Regions from separate parts of the Homo sapiens genome. Here all the other regions are reported to be linked to region 1. Evidence: microRNA targets listed by miRTarBase, many of them from high-throughput screens and not tested one by one. Region 1 holds a microRNA gene; each other region holds the end of a gene's coding sequence.
The links. Region 1 holds the annotated microRNA hsa-miR-6752-3p (UCCCUGCCCCCAUACUCCCAG, at 1,138-1,158, shown strand). A microRNA usually pairs through its seed, bases 2 to 8, with sites in the 3' UTR of a target mRNA and lowers its output. Matches are read on the target gene's strand: a 7mer-m8 pairs with bases 2 to 8, a 7mer-A1 pairs with bases 2 to 7 and ends in A, and an 8mer does both.

Region 2: miRTarBase lists GPD1 as a target of hsa-miR-6752-3p. Seed matches in the 3' UTR shown: 7mer-m8 at 646-652.
Region 3: miRTarBase lists OPA3 as a target of hsa-miR-6752-3p. The part of its 3' UTR that is shown has no 7-base or 8-base seed match.
Region 4: the mRNA of RALGAPB is a reported target of hsa-miR-6752-3p. Seed matches in the 3' UTR shown: 7mer-A1 at 1,467-1,473.
Region 5: the mRNA of RTTN is a reported target of hsa-miR-6752-3p. Seed matches in the 3' UTR shown: 8mer at 1,625-1,632.
Region 6: the mRNA of PPP2R5D is a reported target of hsa-miR-6752-3p. Seed matches in the 3' UTR shown: 7mer-A1 at 3,262-3,268 and 7mer-A1 at 2,625-2,631.
Region 7: miRTarBase lists SECTM1 as a target of hsa-miR-6752-3p. Seed matches in the 3' UTR shown: 7mer-A1 at 1,807-1,813.

What each region holds. Positions count from the first base shown.
Region 1 is chr11:67,489,158-67,493,444 of GRCh38, forward strand. It overlaps MIR6752 (microRNA 6752), which reads left to right and starts at 1,088; the gene lies at 1,088-1,158. It overlaps AIP (AHR interacting HSP90 co-chaperone), which reads left to right. Exons shown (of 6, transcript NM_003977.4): 3 at 110-298; 4 at 881-1,057; 5 at 1,159-1,300; 6 at 1,631-1,946. The coding sequence ends at 1,836. PITPNM1 (phosphatidylinositol transfer protein membrane associated 1) reads right to left here. Exons shown (of 24, transcript NM_004910.3): 22 at 4,253-4,287; 23 at 3,777-3,905; 24 at 2,611-3,139. The coding sequence ends at 2,876.
Region 2 is chr12:50,109,223-50,113,509 of GRCh38, forward strand. GPD1 (glycerol-3-phosphate dehydrogenase 1) reads left to right here. Exons shown (of 8, transcript NM_005276.4): 8 at 201-2,091. The coding sequence ends at 297. It overlaps COX14 (cytochrome c oxidase assembly factor COX14), which reads left to right and starts at 3,014. Exons shown (of 2, transcript NM_032901.4): 1 at 3,014-3,079. RefSeq lists enhancers at 2,454-2,503, 2,564-2,823, 3,044-3,283, 3,294-3,343.
Region 3 is chr19:45,549,453-45,553,739 of GRCh38, reverse strand. It overlaps OPA3 (outer mitochondrial membrane lipid metabolism regulator OPA3), which reads left to right. Exons shown (of 2, transcript NM_025136.4): 2 at 1-4,287. The coding sequence ends at 226. Among named protein-coding and RNA genes, the nearest start is that of OPA3, 33 kb to the left of the region's middle. RefSeq lists enhancers at 1-88, 89-719.
Region 4 is chr20:38,574,656-38,578,942 of GRCh38, forward strand. It overlaps RALGAPB (Ral GTPase activating protein non-catalytic subunit beta), which reads left to right. Exons shown (of 30, transcript NM_020336.4): 30 at 119-4,203. The coding sequence ends at 312. Among named protein-coding and RNA genes, the nearest start is that of ADIG, 4.4 kb to the right of the region's middle. RefSeq lists a silencer at 3,077-3,277.
Region 5 is chr18:70,000,465-70,004,751 of GRCh38, reverse strand. RTTN (rotatin) reads left to right here. Exons shown (of 49, transcript NM_173630.4): 49 at 516-1,721. The coding sequence ends at 601. Among named protein-coding and RNA genes, the nearest start is that of CD226, 55 kb to the right of the region's middle.
Region 6 is chr6:43,010,412-43,014,698 of GRCh38, reverse strand. PPP2R5D (protein phosphatase 2 regulatory subunit B'delta) reads right to left here. Exons shown (of 16, transcript NM_006245.4): 13 at 4,130-4,231; 14 at 3,963-4,035; 15 at 3,702-3,818; 16 at 2,357-3,550. The coding sequence ends at 3,413. MEA1 (male-enhanced antigen 1) reads left to right here and starts at 753. Exons shown (of 4, transcript NM_014623.4): 1 at 753-913; 2 at 1,310-1,584; 3 at 1,671-1,773; 4 at 2,078-3,556. The coding sequence starts at 886. The coding sequence ends at 2,229. It overlaps KLHDC3 (kelch domain containing 3), which reads right to left and starts at 450. Exons shown (of 11, transcript NM_057161.4): 1 at 351-450. RefSeq lists enhancers at 502-621, 2,585-3,085 and a silencer at 832-881.
Region 7 is chr17:82,318,679-82,322,965 of GRCh38, reverse strand. It overlaps SECTM1 (secreted and transmembrane 1), which reads left to right. Exons shown (of 5, transcript NM_003004.3): 4 at 1-88; 5 at 596-1,942. The coding sequence ends at 805. Among named protein-coding and RNA genes, the nearest start is that of CD7, 3.2 kb to the right of the region's middle. RefSeq lists silencers at 1,215-1,364, 1,375-1,554.

The DNA.
Region 1 (4,287 bases):
CCTTGGTGTTTGTTCTCAGATGGTGGTGGGGAAGGGGGCTGGGCCTTGTGGACCCGGTGACCAGCCAGCCCACGGTGACAGAGCCCCCGGCGCCCTTGCCTTCCCGCAGCATGTGGTCCTGTACCCGCTGGTGGCCAAGAGTCTCCGCAACATCGCGGTGGGCAAGGACCCCCTGGAGGGCCAGCGGCACTGCTGCGGTGTTGCACAGATGCGTGAACACAGCTCCCTGGGCCATGCTGACCTGGACGCCCTGCAGCAGAACCCCCAGCCCCTCATCTTCCACATGGAGATGCTGAAGGTGAGGGGCCACCGCGCCTGGTCTCACCAGGCCCCCACTGCCCAGCCTCAGGGCGGCGCTGGCCTGTCCACCCAGGGGTGGTGGGATCCGCAGGTGGACTGCTGGGGGAGCGGACAGAGACAAGAAAACCTGTGCAGGACCCTTGGCAGTACCCTGGGTCTCCTTTCCTCCTCCTTCACATCTCAAATGTCACCTCCTCCAGGAAACCGGCCCTGCCCACCCGGTCTCCTCATTCTCTGTCTCGCAGCAGCTCATTTCCTTTATAGCCTCTGCCGCACCTTGAAGTCCCTTGGAATTCATGGATTTCCTTGTCCATTTAGGGAACCTGCCATGCAGCATGATCTCTGCGAGGGCAGGGCTTTTCACCGTCTTGTTCACTGTTCTATTCTTAGCACTTGGCACAGTGCTGGGCACACAGGAGATGTGACATCGATGTTTGATGCTTTTTGAGTGACAAGTAGCTCTGCTGCTGGTGTGTGATGTCTGGGGGCCCAGCCAGCCCAGATGTGGGTCAGGTCTGCTGCTGACGGACGCAGCTGTGGTGTCCCCGAGCCCCGCTGTGATATGCCCCATGCCCTGCAGGTGGAGAGCCCTGGCACGTACCAGCAGGACCCATGGGCCATGACAGACGAAGAGAAGGCAAAGGCAGTGCCACTTATCCACCAGGAGGGCAACCGGTTGTACCGCGAGGGGCATGTGAAGGAGGCTGCTGCCAAGTACTACGATGCCATTGCCTGCCTCAAGAACCTGCAGATGAAGGTACTGCCTGGAGGCTGAGGGGGAGGATGGATGGAGGGGGGTGTGGAGCCAGGGGGCCCAGGTCTACAGCTTCTCCCCGCTCCCTGCCCCCATACTCCCAGGAACAGCCTGGGTCCCCTGAATGGATCCAGCTGGACCAGCAGATCACGCCGCTGCTGCTCAACTACTGCCAGTGCAAGCTGGTGGTCGAGGAGTACTACGAGGTGCTGGACCACTGCTCTTCCATCCTCAACAAGTACGACGGTGAGCACCGGGCCCTGGGCTGCCGGGGGCTGCGAGTGGTCAGAGAGTGGCCTTTCTCCTGTCACTGCTGGGGTCAAGACCTAGCCTTTCACAACCCCCATTCTGAGCTCCCACGGGGGCCTGACTAAATGCCTCTACTCGGCAGGGCTGTGGGCCCCATTGTGCCAATGAAGCATGAATGGTGTATTGGGGGTGGGGTGGCATCCTCAGGTCAGGGAGGGCTCTCTCTCCCCTGTGGGCCCATGGTGCCAGGAGACATGAGGGCAGGCAGCTGGCCAGGATCCCCCCTCATGCCCTTGCATGCCCACTGCCCACTGGCCTCCCCTGCAGACAACGTCAAGGCCTACTTCAAGCGGGGCAAGGCCCACGCGGCCGTGTGGAATGCCCAGGAGGCCCAGGCTGACTTTGCCAAAGTGCTGGAGCTGGACCCAGCCCTGGCGCCTGTGGTGAGCCGAGAGCTGCGGGCCCTGGAGGCACGGATCCGGCAGAAGGACGAAGAGGACAAAGCCCGGTTCCGGGGGATCTTCTCCCATTGACAGGAGCACTTGGCCCTGCCTTACCTGCCAAGCCCACTGCTGCAGCTGCCAGCCCCCCTGCCCGTGCTGCGTCATGCTTCTGTGTATATAAAGGCCTTTATTTATCTCTCTCTGAGTCTGCTGAGCTGCTCCACTGGGAGAGCCGGGTCATCACCTGGCATTCCTGGTACTTGGGTGGCTGTTGGGAGGCAAAGAATCAGGGTTCAAATCCTAGCCCCTCCACCCACCAGCTCTGAGGCTCTGGTGTCCCTGTTAGAGAAATTACGATGAGCTCTTTCACCAAGGAAGTGTCTCTCGCTGGCCAGGGCTGGGGCGCCCCAGGAGCCCACAGTCTTAAGGGGGAGATGAAGTGGGTACAAGCTAGGTAGCTGGGCACCTGAGGGAGGTAGTCTCCTGGTGCTGCCCTCCCACTCCAGCCTCGGATCCCATGGTCTCCTGGCCTCGGTGTCTGGGGGCAGGGTTTCCATGAGAAGCTACGCTGGGGCTGAGGTGAGCCGGGTTGGGCTGGGGTGGGCTGACTGTCCAGAAAGAGGAGAGGGCCGAGCGCTTCGTGAGACCTTTTGAGGCCCAGGCCCCCATCCTGACCTGCCTGTGACATGGATGGCCCTGGGCGTGGGTTTCGTGCGACCTTTTGAGGCCCAGGCCCCCATCCTGACCCTGCCTGTGAGCTGGATGGCCCTGGGTGTGTGTTGGCCTCTCTGTGCACATCAGTGTCCCCTGTTGAACTGGAAACTGGGCTGGCTGCCCTGTGATGCCAGGCATGGGGTGAGTGGGTGGGGTGCAGGTGGCGTTTATTTTCATGGATTTATACACACTGGAAAAGCCTCTGCGCCCATGCCCACGCCCTCCTCCCTCCCCCCGGCGCTGGGTCCCCTCATATGAAAGGGAAGTAACACCGAGGAGCACACGGAGATATAGGGTGTGGGGCTGGGGGGGCCAGCGCTGGGGCCAAAAGTCTGGGTCCCCAGCCTCCCACACGCAGCCCCTCGGGCCCCTTGGGTGTGTCAATAAATAACCCAGGTCCAGGCTGGTGTGGGCCTCACTCCTCGCTGTCCAGCTTCAGGCTGATGCTCCGTGCTTTGCCCCGTGCCAGGGTGGTGGGTGGTGTTCCCGGGCCCTCACGCTCCGCCTGGCTGGGGCCCCTCGAGCGAAGCAGCTGGCTCTGTTTGCGCAGGAAGTCCACGGGGGCAGCCACACCATAGCTGCTCTTGCCCAAGGCAGCTCTCGGGGGTCCCGAGGAGGCATGCGAGTGCGAGCCCGCTTCCAGCTGGCCCAGGTGGGCCACATAGCCGTCTGACAGGAACTGTGGGCAGAGGTAGGCAGCGATGAGGGGGTGCTGGCCAAGGGCCCACACGCTGCCCTCCACGGTCCTCCAGAGGCACCTGAGGCAGGCTGGGGGACTGGTGGCAGGCTTGGCACAGCCTGAGCTGAAGCCTTCTCAATAGATAGGACCCCAGGCTGGGAGCCAGGGCACCTTGGCTGTGCTCCTAGCTCTGCCCTTCTCTGGGCCTCAGTCTCCTCATCTGGAAAATGGGGTCTTAGAGGAAAAATAACAGCAGCCAATGTTTAGCCAGCACTTGCTTTGTGCCCAGCCCTGTGCCTGTTGATGTGATCTTCATAAGCTGACATGGGCAGTGCCATGATCATTTCCATTTACAGATGGGAAGCTGAGGCTCAGAAAGGTCACAGTGGAAAGCCATGGCCGAGTGGAACCAGCGCCTAGGGTCTTGAGCACTTTCCAGTGTGGGCTGTCCCCTCTGGCTTGCCTGGCAGCTGGCAGCTCAAGCTGCTCATGGCCCTTGTCCTCGGAGGATCCCAGGTTCCCTGGAGGCCGGTTAGGCCTTCTCACATCTTCCCCAGAGTCCGTGGTTCCCAAGGCCTGGGACTGAGGGCCCTGCCCCCTGGTGGGGTCCTGTTCCTGGCCTTCACTTGGGCCTCACCTGGCACTGCGCCTGTAGCTTCCGCACGGCACGGCCCACGATGTAGGTCTGGCTCGGGGACAGCCCCAGCGCCGCGTATACAGCCACATCTTTGGGAGACCCATAACCGGCCACGATGTTCAGTTCTACCTGTGGCGGGAGATGCCAATCAGCCGCCCCAGGGGTGGAGCCGTGCAGCTGGGGGCGGGGCCTGTTGGGCTTCCCCAGATTGTTCTGGGGGTGGGTCCAGGCAGACGGAGGCGAAGACAGGTCCCAGTCCCACGGGGACAGGGGCGGGACCAGCTGCATCTCCCTAGTTGCCCCTAAGTACACGGGGCCCCTCAAACTAGGGGAGCAGGACCGTAGCGGGCCGCTGCAGTCAGGCAGGGCCCGGGCCGATCCAGTTGGGAACAGATGGGCCTCCGCCGATCCGGGGGTGGAGGGTAAGGGGGAGCGGGGGCGGGGTCAGGACCCGGAGCCTCCCCCAGCCGCCGCACCTCCTGCACCAGGCTCTGCAGAAACATTGCCTTCT
Region 2 (4,287 bases), not on the chromosome of region 1:
AGGGAGCAGGGCAATTAGCAATCTGACCTTAAACCTAGGGCTAGGGAGTTCACATTCTCAGAAGGTAGAAACTCACAGCCATCCTTCCTGAGCTCCAAGGTGGGAGGGCAAGGGACAGGAGGGTTAGGCAGTGAGTGGGGGTGGGGGTAGAGTGGACCAGGAGTGGGAGGCTAAGCTGAGCCTTTCCCTCTCCAATCTAGGTTTCCCTTGTTCATGGCTGTGTACAAGGTGTGCTACGAGGGCCAGCCAGTGGGTGAATTCATCCACTGCCTGCAGAATCATCCAGAACATATGTGAGTGGGGCCAGGGCCCAGGCCAGGCCGCTTTTTTACCCCAGTGGAGACCAGCAGAAGCCTGGGGTACCTAGTCACCAGGATCTCCAGGACTCCCAGGGAGCAGAGTCTTCTCATCTTTTCACTGGAGGACAGGAGGCTATGGGGCCCAGCTACGCACCTGGAGATCCTGAACTGTCAAGCCACTGGCAGCCTCATGCCACCACATTTGCCAGAAATGCAGTTGCCCTGTCCCTCTCCAGATGTGGGGCTTTCTCCATATCCTCTGGGAGGGGTGGAATCAAGCCCCAGTGCTGCCTGCTTGGTGGCGGGGGTGATGTATGTGGAGAAGGGTTGGGGGAGAGGCCGGTAGGGCAGGGGCTGCTAGTGGCTGTCTCACATACACCAGTAATCCTGTTAAAGGGCTGAAGAAGTATCTTAGCCACAGGAGCGATGAGGCAAGGATTGTCAGGGAGGGGTCTGGGCTTCTGAGCTGATGCAGGCCCCAAGGACCCCTTTGCTGACCTCTGCCAGGACCCACACAGCTTCGATGGATCTCAGTGTTTGTTAACAAAATACAAAGATCTCAAACAAACCCCTTTTAGCTTCTCCTAGCAACATCTGTGTCCTCAGAAACCTCTGGTTCTCCCCCTTCCCCCTCCCCCAGGCTGCCCTGGCACCCAAATTGCTGCCATGCTGGCATCTGTAGCTCGGTGGCTTGACATTCTCCCCAGGGACTTCCCGGTTCCTAGTTCTTTGCCAGCTCCTCCCCACTCTGTGCGACCTTTCCAAGCCTTCCCTCACCCTCCCCGCCAGCACCCTCTTTGGGGAGCAGGAACTTAATCTGCTGACAGAGCTACACCTTTCATAACAGGCTCAGATCACTCAGCTCCCTGTGACCTTTGTATTCACCCAGGCTTCCTTCTCAGTAGCTCTAGCTGGGGGAGGTGTCAGCTGGGCCCCTCCTGTGCTATCTCCCCAGAGGACATCCCTGACTCCACCCCTTTCTTCCTCCCAAACTCTGCACCTCTTCCTCAGCTGCTCCAGACCGGCCAGGGTAACCAGCTAACCATGCCTGGCATCTGGAAGCCAGCAGGCCAGAGGGTGGCCCAAAGGCTGATGAACGGTAGGGAAGGGTGAGCAGATTCCTATGTTGGTGGGCACCAATATTCCAAGGGCAGCTCTCTTTGCTGAATGAGGGCCTTCTCGTGAGGTACTGACAACACCAGCAACTCGAGAGCTGGGAAACTCAAGGAGGAGGAAGAAAATCAAAACCACCCTACTCCCTGGGGTGAGGAAAGAACAGGAGGGGAGGAGGAGGAGTGTGCTCTGCACTTGCCTTGCTCCAGGATGGGGTGGCAGCAGAGGAATGTCACAGGTCAGCAGCCTAGGCCTCCAGCTATAAATAGTCCGGAGGGCCCGAGAGGCTCCCGCCCGTCCAGCAGGGCTGTCAGCTTCCTGTGTGGCAGCACCTGGCACACTGGCTCTGGCCAGCATTATGCTAAAACCCTGTTACTCTCCAATGAACCAGGGAGGCGGGCTCCTCTCTGCGCCTATCCCTTGAGAATTCTGTCTTACCAGTGAAGGGTGGGGCTGCCCAGATCAGGCAGCAGGAGTGAGGGGCACAGTCACCCCAGGCCTTGCTGAGCCCAGGTCTGGGTACTGAGTGTCCAGAGCTGCCTCCCCAGGAGGTTAAGGTGGGGGCAAAGGGGAAGCTTCAAGCACTTTGCCTACTTTTGTTCACTCCCCAGTGCACTGTGACTCAGGCCTTCCCATCAGGCCTATTTGTCTACCCAATAAAGCGTGTTTTTTCCAGAAACAAGAAGAGTTGGGAGAGGGAGCTTCAGTGCATGTGGCAGTGCGTGTGCTGGCGCGTATCATTGCACGTATGTTTTCCCTCTTACCGTAGGAAAAATGAAAAAAGAAATCCCTCCTCCATAATCGCAGCTACTCCAGGGGTCAGCGGCGGTGCCCACTCAGTCCCCATCCCTCTCTCTCCCCTCCCGCCAGCGCCCCCTCCCGCCCTCGCCGCAAGCTGGCCCCGGCCTTGCCGGCCCTTCTTAGGGGCTTTATCATGCCTCCTGCAAGAATAGAGATCACACACGGGACGGAAACGTTAGACTCTCATCCCTTGTGCCCATTCCTTGGTCACGGGCCAAGCTGCCGCATCCTTAGCGGTCCAGGCATCGCGGTGCCCCTCGGGCCCCTACCTGGACTAGGCCCACAGCCGGGCTCTAGGGGGCGCGCGATCCACCTCCAGAAGGCCGGCTGCGAAAATCTACCCAGCTACTGGCGACGTCACCGCACCGTAGGCTGAGGATTGGCTGACTCTGATTTAGCATCCTAAAACTTCCGGTTCCAGAGCTTGGCTCGCCAAAGACCCTCCCTCGAGGGAGAGAAACCACAGCCCCCAGAATTCAGCGGGCCTCTCCGAGAGCACGGCGCGTCTGAGGATGCGTAGTAAGGATAACGGGCCCGGAAGCCGGAAGTTCAAAGCCGGCCTCCAGCCAGAGTGACGGCCTGCGCGGACTCCCGCCTTAGTGGGCGGAGTTGTGCCGCGTCTGATGCGCAGTTCCCTTTATAGCGCGGCAAGCCGAATCCTAGAGGCTAACCCGGCAGGTGGGAGGGAGAAAGTTGCTTTCTGCACCAATAGCTGAGGCGTTCAGGGTTGTCCAGGGACGCTACCCTCACGTGTCTGGTTCCGAGTGCTGCGTTCGGCTGTGCTGGGAAGTTGCGTAGACAGTGGCCTCGAGACCCTGCCTGCCTGAGGAGGCCTCGGTTGGATGCGAAGGAGCTGCAGCATCCAGGTACGCTGCCGGCTAGGGCCGAGCAGGGGCTGCCAGTCCCACTGCCTGCGCGCCCACCTGGGCCAGTCTCCGCTTGCCGCGTCCTCCCATCCCCTAGTCTGCAGGCCTGGTGCCCTTGAATTCACCCGCTTCTGTTGCGTTGCGGACCGCGAGCTGCACTGCTTCCTGCCCAAGCCCAAGCTCCTCGCAGCAGTAGGTCAGTCTTGCTAGAGCTCAGCGCTAATCCTGTCAAACCTCGACTCCTGCCTGGCGTCTCGACCCTCCACGCTCCAACTCTGCCTCTTCCTTGCTCTATAGACCTCTGCGTCCTGATAAGTGGCTCTCCGGGGCACCCTTCGTGCATATCGGCTATCCAGCTCCACCTCTTGACCGCTTTCACTTCCTGGAATGCTCTCACTGCTCCTCTTCTCCAGGCCATCCTTCTAAAAAGACAGTTCCACTCCCACCCCGATTCCCACCCCTACACCTTTCTGCTAAGTTTTCTCAAGCCCCCACCCTGTCTTTGAGCTGTTGTCTCTGAACTCTCACAGTGCCTCTCCATGAGACCATAAGCTCCTGTATGACAGAAGCCATGTTCTTTTTAGCGGCCTCCGTAGCATGATGTACGTTATGTTATGTTATGTTATGTTATGTTATGTTATGTTATTTTGAGACAGGGTCTTGCTTTGTCGCTCAGGCTGCAGGTGTGCGCCACCACGCCCGGGTAATTTTTAAAAAAAGGTTTTTTTTTTGTTGTTGTTGTTGTTGTTTTTAAATAGAGAAAAGGTCTCCCTATGTTGCCCAACCTGGTCTCCAACTCCTGAGCTCAAGCCATCCTCCCGCCTCGGCCTCCCAAAGTGTTGGGATTACCGGCGTGAGCCACCGTACCCGGCCGATGTACTACTCTCTAAGTGCCAAACAAAAAGTAGATAAAAGATGATGGATACCTTAAAAGCCCTGAGTTGACCACTATGCAGTGTATGCATGTAACAAAATCGCACTTCTACCCATACGTTTACGCAATTTTTTTTTTTTTTTTTTGAGACGGAGTCTTGCTCTGTCGCCCAGGCTGGGGTCCCGTGGCGGGATCTCGGCTCACTACAAGCTCCGCCTTCCGGGTTCATGCCATTCTCCTGCCTCAGCCTCCAGAGTAGCTGGGACTACAGGTGCCCGCCACCACGCCCGGCTAATTTTTTGTGTTTTTAGTAGAGATGGGGTTTCACTGTGTT
Region 3 (4,287 bases), not on the chromosome of region 1:
GGCGCAGCAGCGCCACAAGGAGGAGGAGCAGCGTGCTGCCTGGAACGCGCTGCGGGACGAGGTGGGCCACCTGGCGCTGGCGCTGGAAGCGCTGCAGGCGCAGGTGCAGGCGGCGCCGCCACAGGGCGCCCTGGAGGAACTGCGCACAGAGCTGCAAGAGGTGCGCGCCCAGCTCTGCAATCCCGGCCGGTCCGCTTCCCACGCAGTGCCTGCGTCCAAGAAATAGGAGCTTGCTGGATGGAACCTGAATTTGGACATGGCCTATGTACCTAACGTGGCCTTCTTCCCGCACCACCCTTGCCTGCGCTGGCCCAGTGGAAACCACCAGGATCTTGATGCAACTTGGCATTTGGTTACCCCTGCTGATAAGAGCAGCCGTTACCTGCCACTGGGACCAGCAGGTGAAGCGTTGCAACATAGCCCCCTCCATCATCCTTCACCTCCTATCCCCCACTCCAAACCAGGACGACCTGCAAGGTCCCAGCCAGCAGGACACCGTGGGCACTCTGGCAAATGAAAAAATGGAACCTGGTCTTGAGCTGAATCAATGTGTTATTGTTACCCCCACCCCCGGTTTACCTGATCAGTGTTAACCTTTACTGGGACACTCATCTGTTACACTGGAACACCTTCTTCTTTTTGTCAATCGGCACAGACCACTGTAAGGAAATGCAGTGTGTTGCAGTGGCCTTTTCTCCCCCTCACCTTCTAAGGTCAGCTCTAGCTGAGCATCAGTGCTCTCTTAAGGAGGAAAAAAACGGTGCGGCTGGGAGCGGTGGCTCACGCCTGTAATCCTAGCACCTTGGGAGGCCGAGGCGGGCGGATCACTTGAGGTCAGGAGTTCCAGACCAGCCTGGCCAACATGGTGAAACTCCGTCTCTACTAAAAATACAAAAATTAGCCGGGTGTGGTGGGGTGCGCTTGTAATCCCAGCTACTCGGGAGGCTGAGGCAGGAGAATTGCTTGAACCCATGAGGTGGAGGTTGCGGTGAGCCAAGATGGCACCATTGCACCCTAGCCTGGGCAACAGAGCAAGACACCGTCTTAAAACCAAAAGTTAACCGGGCGTGGTGGTGGGTGCCTGTAATCCTAGCTACTTGGGAGGCTGAGGCAGGAGAATTGCTTGAACTTGGGAGGTGGAGGCCAAGATTGTACCACTGTATTCCAGCCCGGGTGACAGAGCAAGACTGTGTCTCAAAAAAAAAAAAAAAATCCTGGCTGGGCACGGTGGCTCACACCTGCAATCCCAGCACTTTGGAAGGTCGAGGTGGGCGGGTCATTTGAAGTCGGGAGGTCGGGAGATCGGGAGCTCGAGACCAGCCTGACCAATATGATGAAACCCCGTCTCTACTAAAAATACATAAATTAGCTGGGCATGGTGGCATGCACCTGTAATCCCAGCTACTTGGGAGGCTGAGACAGGAGAATTGCTTGAACCCGGGAGGCAGAGGTTGCAGTGAGCCGAGATTGCGCAATTGCATGCCAGCCTGGGTAACGAGCAAAACTCCATCTTAAAAAAACCCACAAAAGGTCCTGGCCTGCAGTCAATCCCTGGAATCATTGTACCTTCCCTTGAGACCCGAAGTGGACTATTCCAACAGAACCCCCTCATCCTTGAGTCTATGGCACAACCCACTGGAATGGCACTACAGGATCTTTTCTGTGAATGTCCTCCAACCCCCCTTTCCGTGGTGGGAAATTTGATCCTAACTAGGGCTAATCCAGCCTGTCCTTCAGCCTCAGCCCCCTATTTTCCTGTCCTCAGAGTCCCTGGAGCTTGTACTGTGTGGCATGTCCTTTCTTGCCTTCCCCACCTTGCTCAGTAGCATTTCTCAGGGACCCAGTCGAATCCAAGCCCATGGATTCAATTGTCACATCCTTCATCTTCCATCCGTGTCTCCTAATCTGTGTGCTCTTGCTTTCTTTCCTCGGAGCTCTGGACTGACCCGACAGCCTGTCTTCATGTAGCAGTACCCTCCTGCCTCCATAGCCCCCGGTCCCACCCCCATCCTACCAATTAGGCCAGCAGTTGGCCTTAACTGCTTGATTAATTTCCTTGGACTGCCATAACAGATCACCATTGGGTGGTGAACTTGATGGCTTAAGTCCAACAGGAATTTAATTCACACAGTTCTGGAGTCCAGAAGTCTGAAACCAAGGTGCTGACAGGGACACGCTCCCTCTTCCAGCTCCTGGTGATTCCAGGCCTTCCTTGGCTCTGCCTGCAGCTTCACATGGCCTTTTCCCTCTTCTATTTTGTCTCTTACAAGAACACCTGTCATTGCATTTAGGGCCCATCTTAAGTTCAGGATGATCCCACCTCAAGACCCTTAATTACATCTGAAAAAACACTTTTTCCAAATAAACTGTCATAAGCACAGGTCCTGGGGGTTAGTATGTGGACTTGTCTGTTGGGGGCACACCATTCAAGCCATTCAGCCCACTATTCCTCCTCACCCCAAGAGTACGCTGGCGTCCAGGTGCAGTGGCTCACACCTGTAATCCCAGCACTTTGGGAGACCAGGGCAGGAGGGATCTCTTTGAGCCCAGGAGCTGAAGACCAGCCTGGGCAACATAGTGAGACCCCATCTCTACAAAAGTAAAATAAAAAATTAGCCAGGTGCGGTGATGCATGCCTGTAGTCCCAGCTACTTGGGAGGCTGAGGCAGGAGGATCACCTGAGCCCTGGAGGTCGAGGCTGCAGCGAGCCGTGATCGCGCCACTACACTCCAGCCTGGATGACAGAGTGAGACCCTTTCTCAGAAAAAAAGTACCCTGGGACTCCTGCCAACCCCGCGGGCCATTTGGCCTTCCTGCTAGCTGAGAGGAACAGTCTAGGAACCACCCTTTTCTACTGGGTTTCTCTTCCAGGATCTGCCACTGAAGCGGGAGGGGGTGGGTCCCAGTAGCCTGCAGTCTGTCCTTCCGACTGTAGCTCTCTCATTAGAGGAGCTGCAAGGTGATGAAGGCATCCTGAGGCTGTACCTGAACCACCATGTGGATCTCCACAATGGGTACAGAGCTTATTAAAATCAGGAGGGAAACTGGGAGGGTTCTGATGGGGAGAGGCCCAAGAGTCACCCTATGAGCTGGGGAAACTAAGGCCAGGGGTAAGCAAAGGGACTTGCCAGAGATGCCACAGCCAGTGAGGGGCTGACTGCCCAGGGTGGTGAAGTAGTAGGGGCAGAGTGAGAGGCTTGGATTACCCCAGCTGCAGAGTGAGGAGGGAGAGGCGATGGCTGAGCAGAGGCTGGGAGGGTGACGATCTCTACACAGAGGCCCAGACCATCCCAGAGGTGGCGTTGATAGTGGGAGACCCTCTCTATCCCCTCTCAGAGCAGCCCCAGATCACACCAGAGATCATAGCATTGTGTAAACTGGGTGACCATTCCACCTGGGCCCGCTTTTGGGAAGCTGCAGGTGAAAGTGGGAGGGCCGGGCTTTCCCCGACTTCCATCCTCACCTCCCTTCTCTAAAGAGGTAAAACTGGCCTGGACCAAGATCTGCCCAGATAGAAAGCCAAGAAACAGGTTCTGAAACTTTTCTTTTCTTCTTTTCTCTTCTTTTTTCTTTTCTTTTCTTTCGGAGACAGTCTAGCTCCGTCACCCTGACGGAGTGCAGTGGTGCAATCTCGGCTCACTGCAACTTCTACCTCCCAGGCTCAACCAATGATCCTGCCTCAGCTTCCGAAGTAGCTGGGATTACATGTGCCCACCACCCACGCCTGGCTAATTTTTGTATTTTAGTGGAGACGGGGTTTCTCCAAGTTGCCCAGGCTGATCTTGAACTCCTGACCTCAGGTAATCCGCCCGCCTCGGCCTCCCAAAGTGCTGGGATTACAGGCGTGAGCCACCGCGCCTGGCCTGAAACAGCATTTCAGTTCCTTCTGGAAGAGGGGGAGAAGCTGGAGCAGAGGGAACTGACCGAGTGGGTCCTGAGTGGGCTGTGTTTAAAACTGGGAGTGACCCAGGCCAGCTCACGCCTGTCATCCCAGCACTTTGAGAGGCCAAGGTGGACTGATCACATGATGTTAGGAGATCGAGACCAGCCTGGCCAACATGGCAAAACCCCGTCTCTACTAAAAATACAAAAATTAGCCGGGCATGTTGGCACATTCCTGAATCCCAGCTACTCGGGAGGCTGAGGCACGAGAATTGCTTGAACCCAGGAGGTGGAGGTTGCAGTGAGCTGAGATCGCGCCACTGCACTCCAGCCTGGGTGACAGAGTGAGACTCAACTCAAAAAAAAAAAACAGAGGTGGGAGTGTGAACACAGGCAGGAGCTCCA
Region 4 (4,287 bases), not on the chromosome of region 1:
TTTGCAAATTGAATGAAATAGTTTTGAGTATGCGGAGAATAGTTCACCTGAATACTTACAGTTCACCTACGTAAGTGACTAGTTTCTAACGTTTATTTTAAAACTCTCTATTTTCAAGGCTTTCTGGTGAGGCAGACTGTAATTAACATTTGTAGAAGAAAGAGACTGGAAAGTGACTCCTACAGTCCCCCCCATGTCCGCCGGAAACAGAAAATCACCGACATTGTCAACAAGTACCGGAACAAGCAGCTGGAGCCAGAGTTTTATACTTCACTTTTCCAGGAGGTTGGACTCAAGAACTGCAGTTCTTAGACCACTGAATTTCTAAGACTGTTGAACTCCAGTTTGGGAACTATAACACAGCAGAACAGTTTGATAGGTGATCACTGTAAAAATAAAAACAAATCACTCCCAAGAGCTTACTGTTTAATCACCAGAATAGAAGAAACACATTATAACCCATTTGATAGAAGACTTTGGGCTATCTAGTGAAATGGGCTCCCAGACACAATCACACTCCTGCTGATAATGATGATATACATTTTAGCCATAAACTTTCTTTTAAAAGTGACAATTTTAGTTAAACATAAGCCTTTTGAGGAGAAAGGCTTTTATGCATCTCAGTTAAACACGTGCATTGGTAGTATCAACAAATTTGCAATATAGAAGTTGAAGATAGTTTTTTACCTCACTTTTTAGGAGGTTGTATTCAAAATTAAAATCTCAGAATCTTACAGGACATTTAAAGACTCATGTTGATAGCATGGAGGAGAAGGAAAGAAGTCACAGCCTTCTACTCAGTTGTAGGTCTTCTTGTCATCCAGCTGTCACACTGACAAAAAGAAAAGATGATACATGTTTTTTGCTCAGATAAGAAGCCTGACATTAAAAGATGTCATATTTTTTTCTCCACATTTCAAAAAGTTGTCCTTCTCATCACTGCACAGATCTGTCTGAAAGCCTCAGTTTCTGAGTGACCCAGGAACAGATCAGAAATGGAGCATGGCCTTGTCCTTTAATGGGGATGCAAATAAAGTTTGTGGGGTTAAAAGTTATAAGACAGCAGTGATACCCCACTCTCTCCATTATTGTCCAGCGGGGTGACATAATGACAGGTTAAATATTTGTGATTCATTGATTAAATATTATTTAAAGAAATGTAAATTCACAATAAGGGTTGAAAATTATTTGGTTTCATCCATTGTCTCTTATTTCAGGACCAAGCAGCAAACTGCAGTAGTTTGTGAAGGATTCTAATATGGGGTTCAGGAATAGCCTCTCAACGCTACTAATTCAGATCTCTCCCAGAGAACTACTGGATTTCCTCATAATTGACAAACATGAGTGACCACCTCTTTGGGTGGCTACTGTTAGAAATGGCTGTTGTCATGTTTTCTGGACTTTGCCAGCCAACAGATCCCTGCCAGGTTTTGGAAATACTTCTATTACCTCGCTGCTACTTTTCTGCAGGGATAAAACTTTTGAGGTGGCCAGACCCAGAACATCCAAGGATTCCTGTTACAGTGCTACAGTATACACTGCTCATTTATCCTATTCTCATGTGCTTTCTTCTTTAGTAAGATTATTTTAAGAAAATAAGTGATATTTAAAGTCCAAAGAGGAATGATCACAGTTGTATAAGGGGTGTTTTCCCACTTGAACTCTGATGTCAGTCGACTGTGGGTCAGAGCTACAACCATCTGTTTGGTTTGATGTTTTGGTGGTTTACTTACGGAGTGGGGATAGTGTGAGACCTAATTCCCTGTGCAAATGTCTCTTATTCCAGAAATGTGCATTTTGTCATCTATAAGCAAGAAATATGGGCATAGCAGCTCTTGGTTTAAAGTTTGCCATAACCTGTTCATGTTTGTTTTAAGCTCAGGTAAAGATAACCTCCTCTTTCTATGACTCCAGTTTCCATTCAGGTTATAGTATTATTCAATAGTTGATTTTCTTTTTAAGCTGGGCAATAAATTGATGTTTCCAGATGGTAACATGGGAGAGGGCATATAGGATAAAGATGAGCAAATTCTACCCTAAAAATGTTCTAGTAGTTCACAGGAAGAAGATGAGGTTTAATAACTTTCAAGGTAATTCTAGATTGACATTTTGAGGGGAAAATGGGCTCTTGTTCTAGTTGAAGTGAGCAGAGAAGGCTATAAATTAATATGTAACTTACAGCATTCCAGAGGTTAAAAATAACTGATGCAGATGTACTTCTTCAGTGTGATTCTTCAGATCAAACTTTTACTTTTGGCATAGTTAATTTCAGAAAAATGTGCTGTATGTGTGTGTGTATGAGGGTTGGTCTTGCTGATCCTTCAGTTAGCTCTAAATTCTGGCAACTCCTTGTAATTCCAATGTATTTGATACATGAACAATCATGTTGAATGCATTTGTGATCTGGGAGACTTCCTCGTCTTCCAGGGAAGGAAGGATGTGCAGCCCCTGAAGGCATGAAACTCCCAGTGTGTACGGAGCCAGTGGAATATGGGATACCCATACCTTACCAGGCGCTGGTTCCTTCTGCTCACAATAACATCTGCCCAAAGAGGGAGTGGGAAGAACGCTTAGCTCTTTCACTAGTATGGATTTGAGTTCATGGTCACTATTTTTACCCACCTGCCTTTGTTAAAAATCACTTTGAGTAGAATAGCACTGGAGGAACATATTTAGCACCTAATATTAATATTTAGTAGTCCATTGATAAATTTGCCAGCATATGTTCTAGCCTCTGGGGGGAAACCAGGACCACTTTTGTCTGTGGCTTAAACAGTTCAGTTGCTATATCTGTTGGGTATGCCGGGGGTGGATGAGTGTGGCATTCCGTGAAGAGGAAGGTGGTAAGTAAGGTTTCCCTTCTACTGCCTTCTTAAGTTGCAGGAGGGAGCTTTTCTCCTCCCCTCTGGTTGGGAGCACTGAGGACAGTGAGGAGGGCTTTTACCTTGTTAATCCTTTCCTTATTTAGCTAGCTTTCCTTTTTGTCTAGGGCTTCCTCTTGAGACCCTCTTCCATCCATTGGGCCTTTGAAAGGACTAATCAGACACACACACACACACACACACACACACACACACTCGCATACTCATGCACATTTTCCTTCATTTCCAGATCCTTTATTTCAGAGCAGCCCATTTTCCTCTGGATTCATTGATGAATACAAGTACCCACACCTTTGGCCAGTAATGTCAGTTACCTGCTGCAGGTTCTGTGTATGAGGCCTTCATGAACGGTTACCTTCTCCATACACTAGGGAAGCATTTGTCAGACTCTGCAGACTGGGTTCTAGAGAGGCAGAGTCTTTAAGAGTATTCATTTCTTCTGGAAGGTGGAGCTTTACCCAAAGTGGAAGTTAGCCTTGCTCAAAGATGTGTTTTGTGGTAGGTGGTAAAAATAAATAAATAAATAAATAATAAAAAAAGAAACATGTATTGGAGGTAATTTGACACTGCTGCTGGCAGTAGTTCTCTATTCACCATTTTAAAGCCCATTCAGGTTCTCTCTTCCTGAAAAGAACTGATTGCTGTGTTTACATGAAATGACATTGGAGTCAGATGGTCTGTTTTAAAGATTTCCATGACAGCCTCTTTTCCTGAGTTGGAGAGATTGGAGGTGGTCTATCCGTACGATGTGGAATCAAACGGTGGGTTTCTTAGTAGCTAAAGAAGCCATGTACTTCTAGTGTGTTTCTCAGAATATCAACTCATGTTCTTCAGATGCTTTTCTTTTTTTAATGGTGAGGGAAAAGGTATAATTTGGGATTCCACAGTGCCTTGCATATAGTAGGCGCCCAGTAAATACTTGTTGAAGCAAACCAAGTTTCCCAAGTCCTCATCTCTTATAGTGACCAAGACATCTTTCTCCTCTGAAGGGCTTGGCAGTTGTGGCTAAAAAATAAGCAGTATCATTATTTGCTTGAAATCATATATACAGTTTGTATGAATTTCAGTATGTTGCCAAGACATGATTTTTTCTTATTGTATTTTCTGTAAATATTTCTGGCACTGAACTGTAAAGTAAAGGCAAAGTGTAAATATGAAGGCGTGCCCGTGCCCCTTGCCTCCTGTGTTTCATCTTCGTCGGTTAGGGAAGAAGGTCCAGAGGTTTGTTTGTATTTATGCCGATCCTTTGTCCAGAAGAAGCCCATGGAATATTGAATGTAATACATTTAGTCAATTAAATTTTAAGGAGATTCTTATCTAATAACTTTGTGTGTGCTTTTGGATACAGGCTGAGGCTTTACTCCTACACTGGTGCTGTTAATTTTACCCTTTCAGGGGATGTCTG
Region 5 (4,287 bases), not on the chromosome of region 1:
ATTTTTAGTGACACCAAATTTCAGTGAGCGTTATTCTCTGAACATTTTTTATGCTAAAACACTGAATTGTGTCTTTCCTGTACTGTAATATATCTGTTGGTTATTTGTGTTTTTATAGTCTGATTTTTTTTTTTAAGCAGGGGAGGTTTTAGTTTGTTTTAGCTGCGACCATGAATTTCTGGAGCTAGTGAAGTTAAAGATTATGCTTTAGGAAGGATGGTACATAAAAAAAGATTAATGGCATTCATTTGGAATTATAGTTAATGGTATCCATTATGGGGGGTACTTTTTAAAAAATACTCTGGGTAAGCTGTTAATTTAAAAAAATATTGATTTTGTAACTTGTTTATTTTTTAAAAAATGCAAAATATTCTGGAATGCTATTACATCAAGAACTTAGAGCTTTAAATTATATATAAATCCTGTTCATATGTATTTGTTTATGTGTGTGCCTCCTAAGTATAGTACCAAGTTTCATAAACTAGTATTTCTGTACTCTTATTTTTCTATCTCAGCTTTCCCAAACTCAGAAGCAAACCCTCTAAATGCCTATTATTTGAAATGTCTTGAAAACCTCGTGCAGCTCCTTAATTCTTCCTGAGTGCCATGGGATGCTACACCTTGAAGCTGACAGTCATCAACAGGGGAGCTAAAGTTGAAGCCAGCTGTGTGTAGCAGCTGTTACCTGAAGACGTGCTACCTCTCTACAAAGTGTTGATCCCCTTCTTTCCCATGAGAGAGAGAACTGGTGATACTCCAACACCGTCCAGTTGTGGCAGCTCTCCAGAAGTAATAGCAGCTGACAACTTTCTGTGCCTTTTCCTTTCTGTTGAAAAGGCATAGAAAGTTCTGGGAACATAAACATTTTTACCCTTTTCTATGCCATTTATTTTGTAAAAATCCTATTTAACAGTTATTTAATAAAACAATATTTTTAGAAACTAAAAATTGACTAATAATTGCTGCTTACAGACTTTTATCAGTCTCATGAATATTAATTTTAGGAGTTGAAATAAGACACTGTGTCCTGGTTGTTTCTCTCTTTTTTTAAATTTTAACTGATGTAAAATTTGGCTCTGTCAGTGCAAATCCTTATTTTCAAAACTTTCTGTTATCCAGAGCATCCACACTGGAAAAGGGCTATGTAGAAGTAAGTGTGCATTATTTGTAAAGGGCTGTGTGGAAGTAAATGTACATGATTTGTAAGTAGCTTTCTTAGGCAAGTTTTAGTGATGTTATCTTCTTCCTAGATGACTCTTAAATCATTACATGTATAATCTTCACCGTTGTCTTCTGCAAGGCTGTGTAATAAAGAAGAAAGAAATAGAGTTGGGGCTGTATAAGCCTGGGTTCAAATTTAGCTCAGCCCAAAACATCATGAAGAATAGAGTAAGACTGAAAAATGCAGAAGATGGCCGGGCTTGGTGGCTCATGCTTATACTTTCAGCTCTTTGGGAGACCGAGGTAGGTGGATCACTTGAGGCCAGGAGTTTGAGACCAGCTTGGGCAACTTGGTGAAATCCCATCTCTCCTAAAAATACAAAAATTAGCCATTCCTGGTCTTGAGCGTCTATAATCTCAGCTACTCCAGTGGCTGAGGCACGAGAATCTCTTCAACCTGGGAGGCAGGGAGGTTGCAGTGAGCTGAGATCATGCCACTGCATTCCAGCGTGGGTGACAAAGCAAGACTCTGTCTCAAAAAAAAAAAAAAAAAAAAAAAATGCAGGAGGAACAAGCTCTATACTCTATTACATAATCTTACTTAACCTGTAGTTTTGAATTCCGCACTTAAACCAAAATCAAGTACTAATCACTTTCAGCAACTTTCCCAACACTTTTGAAAGTGAGAAAATTGTGTGTAAGAGAAATAAAAGGTGAAGTATTAATATATATATGTTTGTATATACATATATGTCATATACATGTATACATATATATTCATTTAGGATAATGTTTTCAGAAAAACTGAAAGAAAAATATCATTTTAAGTGCTGTTAAATTGCTAACAGCAATAAAATAAGCAATGATGTTATTTAAGCTGGAAGTATGACAAAATTTATGTTAAATACAGAAATAGTAACAGTTAAGTTTGTAATGTCTGAGAATTAATTGATTCGAGATCTGAAAAATAAATCTAGGAAGCTCAGAAGTTTCTGAGCTGCCCAAGTTAATGTGTAGCGGAAAACTCGTCAATTCTGAGAGCAGGAATCTTGGGAATTATTTTTCCCTTTTCTCCCGATATCTTATATTTTTTGCCATTTTTCTGGAATTCTCTAATCAGCCCTCACTGATAAATAAATGAAATGAATTTCTAACTCCCTTCATAACTCCTTTATAACTCCTCCTTCTATGTCCCAGCTATTATTCTCGGAACTTTTATCATTTAATCTATCTTTTTCTAAAATACTACTAATGTCTTTGTGTTCCAGGTGAATAAGCGGAGGCGCAGAGCGGTTAAGTAATGTGCTCATTGACTGTGGCTGGTTATCAGTGAAGTGGAGGTTGGAACCCAGGATAACTGCGAAGAAGTTTGCTTTTCTTTATAAACCACTTTTCTTTATAAACCATTTATTCTGCCCCTCTACCACCCCCACTGAAATATCTCTTTTTGTGTTTGAATCTTATAGATAAACACCATTTTTCAACAAAAATTTGTTCTCTTCAGGGAAATTATATTATGGTTCATTGATTGACTGATTCACATATCAGAGTAGGCACTACCTCATCTTCTTGGAACCAGGAAGAATTGTTGTAACTGATCATTTTCCCTAGCAGTTCACAGTAGTACCAGAGGGAGATTTGTAGCCTAGTAGTCAGAACCACCCAGAAATGTTACCTGCCAAAGCCCAGGAGGACTGCAGACCTTGGAGAAAGGAGAGGGGCCATGGCTTTAGGGGAACTTGCGTTTGCCTCTCTTGGTGTCCAGGAATGTGAAGCTCGGGTGCACGCTGTGGTCCAGATCCTGGGGGACAGTCCTTGCAACTGGGTCTCCTGGGATTATGCACCGTCAGCCAGTGGGGAAGACGTCTCAGCAGGAGCCTTGAGGTGACTGGCCCACTGCTGTAGCAGCTGCCCTGCCTCTCCCTTGCGGACCAGCATCAGAATCCTCAGGTGTGTGCACTGAAATGCAGATTCCTGGGCTCAATGAGGCAGACTTGTGTCTAGGAGAATTTTTAGCAAGCTCTCCAGGTTCTGCTCACCACAGTTTGAGAACCACTGATTAATCCCCATGATTACAGAAAACTGCCTAGAACACGAAAATTATTTCATATCACTTAACTGCTGCCTGATGAAATCAGGACTTGAATCTGGGTCTCTTGAATGTGAACCAAGTATTTTTTCTTTCACACCTGCCCAAGTTTAAGCAAGGATCCAGGAAATAGGTGCAGGGGACTAGTTCATACTTCATGGTGTCCAATTTCTCCATATCCTAGCATTTTTGGTGGGCTGAGTTAGTGTATGTGCGCTATGGAAGCACAAAAAGGTAGTGCCACGTCACACATGAAGTGCAGACATTGATACTGAGGCTTCTGGGCTTAAGACTTGAGCAGTTTGAGGGAGGAGGCAGCCATTAGTTTTGAAAACAGGAAGCTAGTAGGAAAGTGGTGTTAGCAGACCTGGCTAGACCCTTTTGCCACTCTTCCTAAAAACACTTACAGAAATGAATAGCTGAATGTACCTCTTTTTTTGGTGTTCTATAAATAATGGAGCAAAAAAAAAAAAAAAACAAAACAGAATTTTGCCTATTTAACTCCAGATCACCAATTTTCCTTTGTAGTGTTAAATGGACTCTTCATCCGTGTCATTTTGCATCATCAGTCTTTGGGGCTGCACCTTGTGTATTCCCCATTTCTTGAGGTTGCCAGAGCCCCAGGTCTGCTTCTTGACCCGTGATGTTCCTCGGATTTGCCAGAGTGATGGGTAAGAGTAATGACTGGCATCCCCGCTTCTGCATTAAGATCTGCTTGCAGTTATCTCAGTGAATGAGAGAGCATAATAGAGCGGTTAAGAGTAGAGGGCTCTTGAGTCCTGTGGACCAGGAATTAACCCTGGCCTCACCACTGCAATTGTTGGAAACCTGGGACAGGCTCAAGCTAACTGGGGTTGAGGACACCTACCTTGTGCAGTTGGTGAGAGGACTGAGTGCTTAGCCTGGTACATAGTTATCCCTTAGATGTTATCAGTGATTTTTTATTCTTACAAAATTCTCAAAAACATCTGTTTAAGCAAAAACTTCAAATCTTTTGTGTCCTTGCAAACTTTCCTCCCCTCTGGGAGGGGATGTGC
Region 6 (4,287 bases), not on the chromosome of region 1:
CTGCATATGACTCTATCCCTGTCTTCTTCCAGACATTCCGGCCTCCCCTAGCCCACCACGCCAGACACCCCTCCCCTTCCATTATGCTCAGCTTCCCTGTTTTCATGGCCCAGTCTTCCTTCCCATTTCCTTCATTGCTTCCTCCAGACACCAGGTCTCTCCTACCCATCTCCTCGCCATCCTCCCCTAGCCCTGCTTTCCCCATTAACACTCTCCTTTCCCATCATCCCCCTAGCTCCCTCCCCACCCCCACCTCATCACTCTCAGGCCCCTCCCCCGCCACTCCAGCTCCAGACAGCACGTCCTAAGCCCCCTAATTCTCCCTTGCCCTTCTACCCATCCCAGGCTACCTGCCAGGCCGAGCCGGGGCGGGGCCGCGGGTCCTCGAGCTGCCTGCAGCCTAGAACCCGTTGCGCGCCAACCGACGCCTTAGTCCCCAACGAGATAAACACAGCCAAGCTCGGTTCTTCCGGCGGGCAGCTGTGCGCGCACGTGCAGTCGTAGCTAAGTGCCGGAGGCATTTCGGGACTTGTAGTCCATACGTTTCCTGAGGGACGAGAGGGCTGAGGAGTGGGCAGGGGCGTAGGAGAGATTCTGCGCATGTGCAAATATGTGTCGAGACCGAGGAGGCCACTGGGTAATGCAGTCCTTTGTTTTTTGGGCTGGGAATGACGGAGGCGGGGCAAGGGGCGGACTCCTCGTCCTCGCCAGCGTCAATCATGGATATGGGGCGGGGCTGGAGGACTAGGCACCTCTGCACGTCCTGCCCCGCCGGAAGTGGAGGCCGCGGGCTCTGAGCGGGTGAGGCGCGCGGGAACACCGGCGCCGGGATTCGGATGGGGGCGGGTGGGGGACGCTGCAGCTGGGGCCATTTGAGGGGAGCCCATGGGGCCTGAAAGGCATCTGTCAGGCGGTACAGAGGGGGTCCTCTAGGAGAGGGGAGAAGGGGGCGGGTACGCCGACCTGTTTAGGGGAGTCTGATGACCCAGAGTTCCCAAGTCGCGGGGGAGGCGTGGCGCGGGGAGCCGGGGTTCTGGAAGGGGTGTCTTTTAGGAGGTGGCAGGGCCTCCGGTTGGGCGTTTAACTAGGAAGTGGCGGAGCAAGTTGGTGGGGCCTGGTTCAAGATAAGAACCCCGACTTAGGAGGGGGAGGAACGAGAGGCTGGAATTGGGGCGGAGGGGTGGAGGATGCAGGAGCCTCGGGGAGGAGCTGGTTTTTTGCACGCAGGAGACTACAAGGAGATGATGAGAGGATGAAGATGGGCCTGGTTTCATCCGATCCCTGTCCTACCGCCTCCCTGTTCTTGCAGCCCCTGCCCGGATGGCAACAGTAGTTCTAGGAGGAGACACCATGGGCCCTGAGCGTATCTTCCCCAATCAGACTGAGGAACTGGGACATCAGGGCCCTTCAGAAGGCACTGGGGATTGGAGCAGTGAGGAGCCTGAGGAAGAGCAGGAGGAAACGGGGTCGGGCCCAGCTGGCTACTCCTACCAGCCCCTGAACCAAGATCCTGAACAAGAGGAGGTGGAACTGGCACCAGTGGGGGATGGAGATGTAGTTGCTGACATCCAGGATCGAATCCAGGTAGGGTGGAGGAGGGATGGTTCCTGAACAGGTGAAGCTGGGCTCCCTGAAAGCCTAGACCCAAACGGTCTTCTGTGGCTCTGCAGGCCCTGGGGCTTCATTTGCCAGACCCACCATTAGAGAGTGAAGATGAAGATGAGGAGGGAGCTACAGCGTTGAACAACCACAGCTCTATTCCCATGGACCCAGGTAAAAGATCATTCTTTCATTCTGGAATAATTACTAAGGAAATGAACTGGCATGAGTCAGTAGAAGGAAGTTTCAGAGGAAGACCCTATCCTAAAAAGATAGTTTGTAAACTAAGATTTTGTAGACTTCAGAGTCCAAGTGAAATGCTCTTTTGCTAGCTTTGGGGATGGGCAGGCTTGCCTTAAAGTAACAAGGTGGATTTGGTGACCCTAGCAGCCCAAGGGCTCTGGGTTGATTCGGGGATTGGGGAGGGGAGCTGGTCCCATTATTTCTATGCCTGAATGGCCTCTGGCTCTGATTTCAGAACATGTAGAGCTGGTGAAAAGGACAATGGCTGGAGTAAGCCTGCCTGCGCCAGGGGTTCCTGCCTGGGCTCGGGAGATATCGGATGCCCAGTGGGAAGATGTGGTACAGAAAGCCCTCCAAGCCCGGCAGGCATCCCCTGCCTGGAAGTGACCACAGTGAGAGCTGCCTTATATTCCTACATTCCAGGCCAGAACCAGCACAGGACTGAACACATCCCTGGTTGTAATGTCCATTTCCATCTTCCCCGTCTCCCTTTCCACATCAAGGCACATCAGACTTCTCAGAGACCCACTTTATTCAGTTCTGTACATATGGGGACATCGGTCCAAGCCCAACCCACCTTAGCATGTATCACTCTGTGGAGAATAAAGCACCCTATGTACACAGCCAAAAGCCGCACTGCCTGCGCCCCTGGAACCTGGGTCCGGCCTTCCTCAGCCCCTGGCCCCTCCAAGGTACCTATAAGGGACAAGAGAAGGCCTGCCCAGCATAGCACAAACAAGGAAATAAATAGGTGTTGGCAGGAGCCATGCTTGGGGCACCGCTCCCTGCTTCCTTCTTTCTAGTTTTGGGAACCAACAGCACAGAAAAGCAGTCAGCCCCAGGGTGGTCCCTTCCATGTCTGTGACCCCAGGGCTGCTGCTCACCAAAGACAGGGCACGGGGTAGGGTGTTTATTCATCCCTCCCCGGCCCCACTTGGTCCATCTGGGCCCTATATTCATCAGTTATTGTCCACAGCCTATACTTTTCTCCTTTTGACCTCCCTTGGTCAGGCATGGGGTAAGAAGAAATAATACAACCCTATCTGCCAGCACACGGCTGGGACTGGGGGGCCTATTTGTGCTGCAGGGGGGTTGGCTTCCCTTCAGCTACTCTGGGACCAATGGGGCTTGACATAACTTTGGTGAGAATAATCTCCTGCTGTTCCCTACATGCCTCTGCAGGGGAGAGAGAGGAGGGGAGATACCTGGCGTTCAAATGAGGATGAAGGGAAGAATAGAGGAGCGTATGTATTCCTGTGTGTACTTCTCAGAGCAGCCTCAGGTAGCTGTGGGTGAGGAGCAGGTAGGGGACAGGCATCCCCAGGTTGTCTGAGCACTAAGCATCTTAGTGCTCAGCCTGTACTAGCCACAGGGAGGCATGAACACCTTTTGGGGAGAAGAGGGACCATTCTGTGGGTGTCCCTGCTTCAAGTGCCCACATCCCCCTCCCTTGAGTAGCTAGAGAGGCGCTGCCTTCCCCCAAGACAGCCAGTAGGGAGCAGAGTATGGAGGGCCAGGGCAGTGTCCCAGGGCTGTGTGGGCTGTGGCCCTGTGGTAGGAACGTGAGGGGTCAGAGAGCCTCCTGGCTGGCAGTTAGGAACTCTTCCGCCCGCTTGTGCGCCTCCAGTGCCTTGATGGTGTACACGTCCTGGGGCAGCTCCGACTTCCTCCGCAGCAGCACTTTCTCCTTCTTGATGTCTTTTAGCATCTGTGTGTGAATAGGGACAAGGTGAGGAATGGTGACCAATTCCCAGTGAATTCTATTGTTCCGTCCCCTTATTCTTTGGCTCTGCTGTTTCTGTCTCCTCTCCCTTCCAGAGCTATTATTTCTGCTCCATCCCCCTACATTGCCCTCCCACCTGAACAGCCTCAGTCTCCACAGTCCTCTTCAGAAGCTGGATGTCCTCAGCTGTGGGGGTCTCTGTCTCCATCGAGTACACAGGGGGCAGTGGTGGAGGGGCTCGGAACATGGGATACTGAGTGAGGAGACATGGACAAGCGTTAAGAGCCACTTCAGAGGCTTGGGGGCCTGTGTGCCCCATATTCCTCCCCCAACAAACTCTCCCCCAGCTCAAGATGGGCTGGCCCCTCAGTTCACAACAGTGGCAGGAAAACCTCACCTGGGGATTAAGCCGGGCCAGCTCCTCGATTTTTTGCCACATCTCTTCCCTTTCCTTCATTCGGAACCGGCCCCTGAGGAGCAAAAGTAGGATTGGGGTTGGGCTTGAGAGAAACACAGTGAGCTGGTGGTAGAAGATGAAAGTCTCCCGGGGAGAGAGATACTCACTTCTGCTTCTCTGCCTTGTATTGTTGTGTGCAGTCATCAAACAGCTTCTGATTCATTTCCATAAACAACTTCAGGGCATTATAGATCAGTCCATGGATTGTCCTGCCACCAAGAAGAAAGATGAGGTGTAGGAGGCCAGAGCCTGCCCTTAGCGTGAG
Region 7 (4,287 bases), not on the chromosome of region 1:
AGCGGTGGTCACTGCTGTCTTCATCCTCTTGGTCGCTCTGGTCATGTTCGCCTGGTACAGGTGCCGCTGTTCCCAGCAACGCCGGGAGGTAGGAGGCCCTGCACCCCAGTTTGTGCGGGGTGGGGAGTCTTGGGTGGGGCTGCCCCAGGCTGAGGTCAGCCTTACTGTCCTGCACCTGCTGGGGCTCCAGGAGAGGGTGGGGGGAGCACCGGTCCCAGAGAGCCAGTCCCCGCCAGGGGCCCAGCCGGCTATGGTCAAGAATACAGAGCCAGGCTCCCCACCCAGACCCGCCCTGCCCTTCCTGCAAGCTCTCACTGTCCCCAGGACTCCCTGGAGGGCAGCATGGCAGGGTGCGTGGTCTCCATCAGGGACGGAACTTGGAGTTTCTGAGCCAAGGGAGCCTCTTGCTGAGGGTGCCTTGGGGAGTGGGTTCAACCTCCAGCAGTTTCAGAACCCAGGCGAGGGCTGGGAGTGTGCCTGGGGGTGGGGGTGTGCATGAGCACGTATGCCCGTGAGTGTGAACGCACGCCCCAGGGCAGAGCTGTGGGCACGGGGGCGCGCGGCTCACACAGGCACCTCCTTCCTCCCCCTGCAGAAGAAGTTCTTCCTCCTAGAACCCCAGATGAAGGTCGCAGCCCTCAGAGCGGGAGCCCAGCAGGGCCTGAGCAGAGCCTCCGCTGAACTGTGGACCCCAGACTCCGAGCCCACCCCAAGGCCGCTGGCACTGGTGTTCAAACCCTCACCACTTGGAGCCCTGGAGCTGCTGTCCCCCCAACCCTTGTTTCCATATGCCGCAGACCCATAGCCGCCTGCAAGGCAGAGAGGACACAGGAGAGCCAGCCCTGAGTGCCGACCTTGGGTGGCGGGGCCTGGGTCTCTCGTCCCACCCGGAGGGCACAGACACCGGCTTGCTTGGCAGGCTGGGCCTCTGTGTCACCCACTCCTGGGTGCGTGCAGACCCTTCCCCTCCACCCCCCAGGTCTTCCAAGCTCTGCTTCCTCAGTTTCCAAAATGGAACCACCTCACCTCCGCAGCACCCGACTTACCAGGACGCATGCCCCTCCCTCTGCCCTCATCAAACCCACAGACCCGGACTCCCTTTCTGCCACCCCAGGCTGGTCCGGCCCCAGGTGTGGGGTCCGCTCTCTCCACTCCCAGGGCTCCGCGCCCAAGTGAGGGGGCCCCTGCCGGAGCCTCAGACACACTCCAGTTCAGGGCTGTGGGGGGCCTTGGCCACATACCTGTCCCTTGGCTATGAGCAGGCTTTGGGGGCCCTTCCGCGGCAGCCCCGGGGGCCGAGGTAGGGTCGGGGGCTTAGAGGCTGGGATGGCTCCTGGCCCCACCGCCAGGGGGCAGCGCAGGCCGGGCTGGGAGGCGGCGGCGGCGGCTCGGGCTGGGGGGTCAGGTGGACGCCGCCCTCCGGGGCTGGACGCGCATCCCTCAGTCCCTCGGCCACCCGGGGGTCGCTCCCTCGTGCCCACCGCACCTGCCGAGCCTCTTTGGACCCAGATCTGTTCATGCTTTTGTCTTCGTCACTGCGGCGGGGCCCTTTGATGTCTTCATCTGTATGGGGTGGAAAAATCACCGGGAATCCCCCTTCAGTTCTTTGAAAAAGTTCCATGACTCGAATATCTGAAATGAAGAAAACAAACCGACTCACAAACCTCCAAGTAGCTCCAAATGCAATTTTTAAAATGGAAAACAAAAATCTGAAAGAAACGTCTTTAGTGGCTTTAAGCCCCAAAACGTCCCTAAGGCGTCCTCGAGATGAAGACGGGGGGGAGCCCCCAGCCAGGTGGAGACCCCGCAGGGACGCGGCGGCGCCCGGTGACCGAGGCCTCGCACAGCCGGCCGCCCTGAGGGTCGGGCCGGAGCCAGGGTCCAAGAGGGGCGCGTTTGTGTCTCGGGTTAAAATAAGGTTCCGTCCGCGTGCTGGGTCAGACCCTGTTCTGTGGGCACAGCGCCCGGGACCCCCGCACGGGGGTCACACCTGCCTACACAGGCTGAAGAGCATTGGCGTGTCTTCAGGTCAAAGTTTTTCTTTCTCTTTTTTCTTTTCTCTTTTTTTTTTTTTTTTTTTTGGAGATAGGGTCTAGATCTGCCGCCCAGGCTGGAGTACACGGTCGCGATCACGGCTCGACCTCCTGGGCTCAAGCGATTCTCCCACTCTGGCCTCCCAAAGTGTTGGGATTACAGGCATGAGCCCCTGAGCCCAGCCTCAAAGTCACTTTGAAATCGGTAGTGCGGTCGCCATGTCCCCTGCGCACCCAGGCAGGAAACCCAGGAGGAGAGCCTGGGGCTGGAGTCCGTGAGGATTTTCATCTTTTCCTGGTGGCTTATCTCTGCTTCTGTTTTCCCTACTGGGATTTAGTGCTGGTCCTCACGCTGCCTTCCCCCTCCGTGTGTGGAAGTCTGTGTCTCCCTCTGCAGCCCCCAACCCCACCCGGCCCCATGCTGTCCTCAGACACACCAGGCACGCTCTGGCCTCAGGGATTCTGCCCTACTGATCCCGCTGCGTGGAATGCTGTTCCCCGGGGCCCCAGTTGGTTTCACCCACGGCCCGTTCCTGGGTTGGCCTTTGAGGGCCACACCCACACCCTGTGTCCTGCTGGCTGTCCACCTGGCCTCCCTGAGGTCAGCTCCAGGCGGGAGGGCTCCTGGTCCACACTGCCCCCTGCTCCTGGCACAGACGCTGGCATAAAGACGCCCGGTGAACGTTGGTGACCCAATGCATGCATGGAGCAAAGGCCAGAGGAGGGGCTGCTCCGGCAAGTGCTGTTACCCACCGCCTCGAGCCACAGCCTTGCTAGGGTGCTCCAGGGTCTCTGCGCAAGATTCTGCCCCCAAACCCTCTGTCTCTCGTTTATGGAGAGCCTGGGGGAGGAAAACCGGCTCCCCCAGGACCCTCGGCCCAGCAGAAAACCTGCACCACCCCACAGCCCCACCCGTGTCTCCGCACCGGCTGCTGTGGCTGGGACTTCTGGGGAAGGAGCTCAGGGCTGCAGGTCCGTGTGTGAGTCACGGGCACACATCTCTGCACACACGCGTGAGTCACGTGCACCCTTCTCTGCACACACACGTGTCCACATGCACCCGTTTCTGCACACACGCATGGAGTCGCGCACCCGTCTCTGCACACACGCATGGAGTGACGCGCACCCGTCTCTGCACACACGTGTGTCCACACGCACCCCTCTGCACACATGCGTGGAGTCACGCGCACCCGTCTCCTCACACACGCGTGTCCACACACACCTGTCTGCACACGAGTGTCCACACATTCCCGTCTCTGCACACGCATGTCCACGCGCTCCCGTCTCTGCACACACACGTGTCCACACGCACCCCTCTCTGCACACACACATGTCCACACGCTCCTATCTCTGTACACACGCGTGGTCATGCACACCCGTCTCTGCATACATGTGTGGAGTCACGCGCACCCGTCTCTGCACACACGCGAGTCACGCACACCCGTCTCTGCACACACACGTGTTCACATGCACCCGTCTCTGCAAACACGTGTGGAGTCACGCACACCCGTCTCTGCACATGCGTGGAGCCATGCGCACCCGTCTCTGCACACACGCGTGTCCACACGCACCCGTCTCTGCACACACATGCGTGGAATCACGCGCACCCGTCTCTGCACACACGCGTGGAGTCATGCGCACCCATCTCTGCACACACACGTGTCCACACGCACCCGTCTCTGCACATGCGTGTCCACACACATCCATCTCTGCACACACGCGTGTCCACATGCACCCGTCTCTGCACACATGCATGGAGTCACGCGCACCCGTCTCTGCACACACAAGTGTCCACACACCCGTCTCTGCACACGCACGTCCACACGCACACGTCTCTACACACGCACGTGTCCACACGCACCCGTCTCTGCACACCCGCGTGTCCACACGCACCCGTCTCTGCACACACGCATGGAGTCACGCGCACCCGTCTCTGCACAAAGTGTCCACACACACCCGTCTCTGCACATGCGTGTCCACACACACCCGTCTCTGCACACACGCGTGTCCACACACATCCGTCTCTGCACACACGCGTGGAGTCATGCGCACCCATCTGCACACACACGTGTTCACACGCACCCGTCTCTGCACATGCGTGTCCACACACACCCGTCTCTGCACACACGCGTGTCCACACGCACCCGTCTCTGCACACACGCATGGAGTCAAGTGCACCCGTCTCTGCACACACGTGTCCACACACACCCGTCTCTGCACACGCACATCCACACGCACACGTCTCTGCACACGC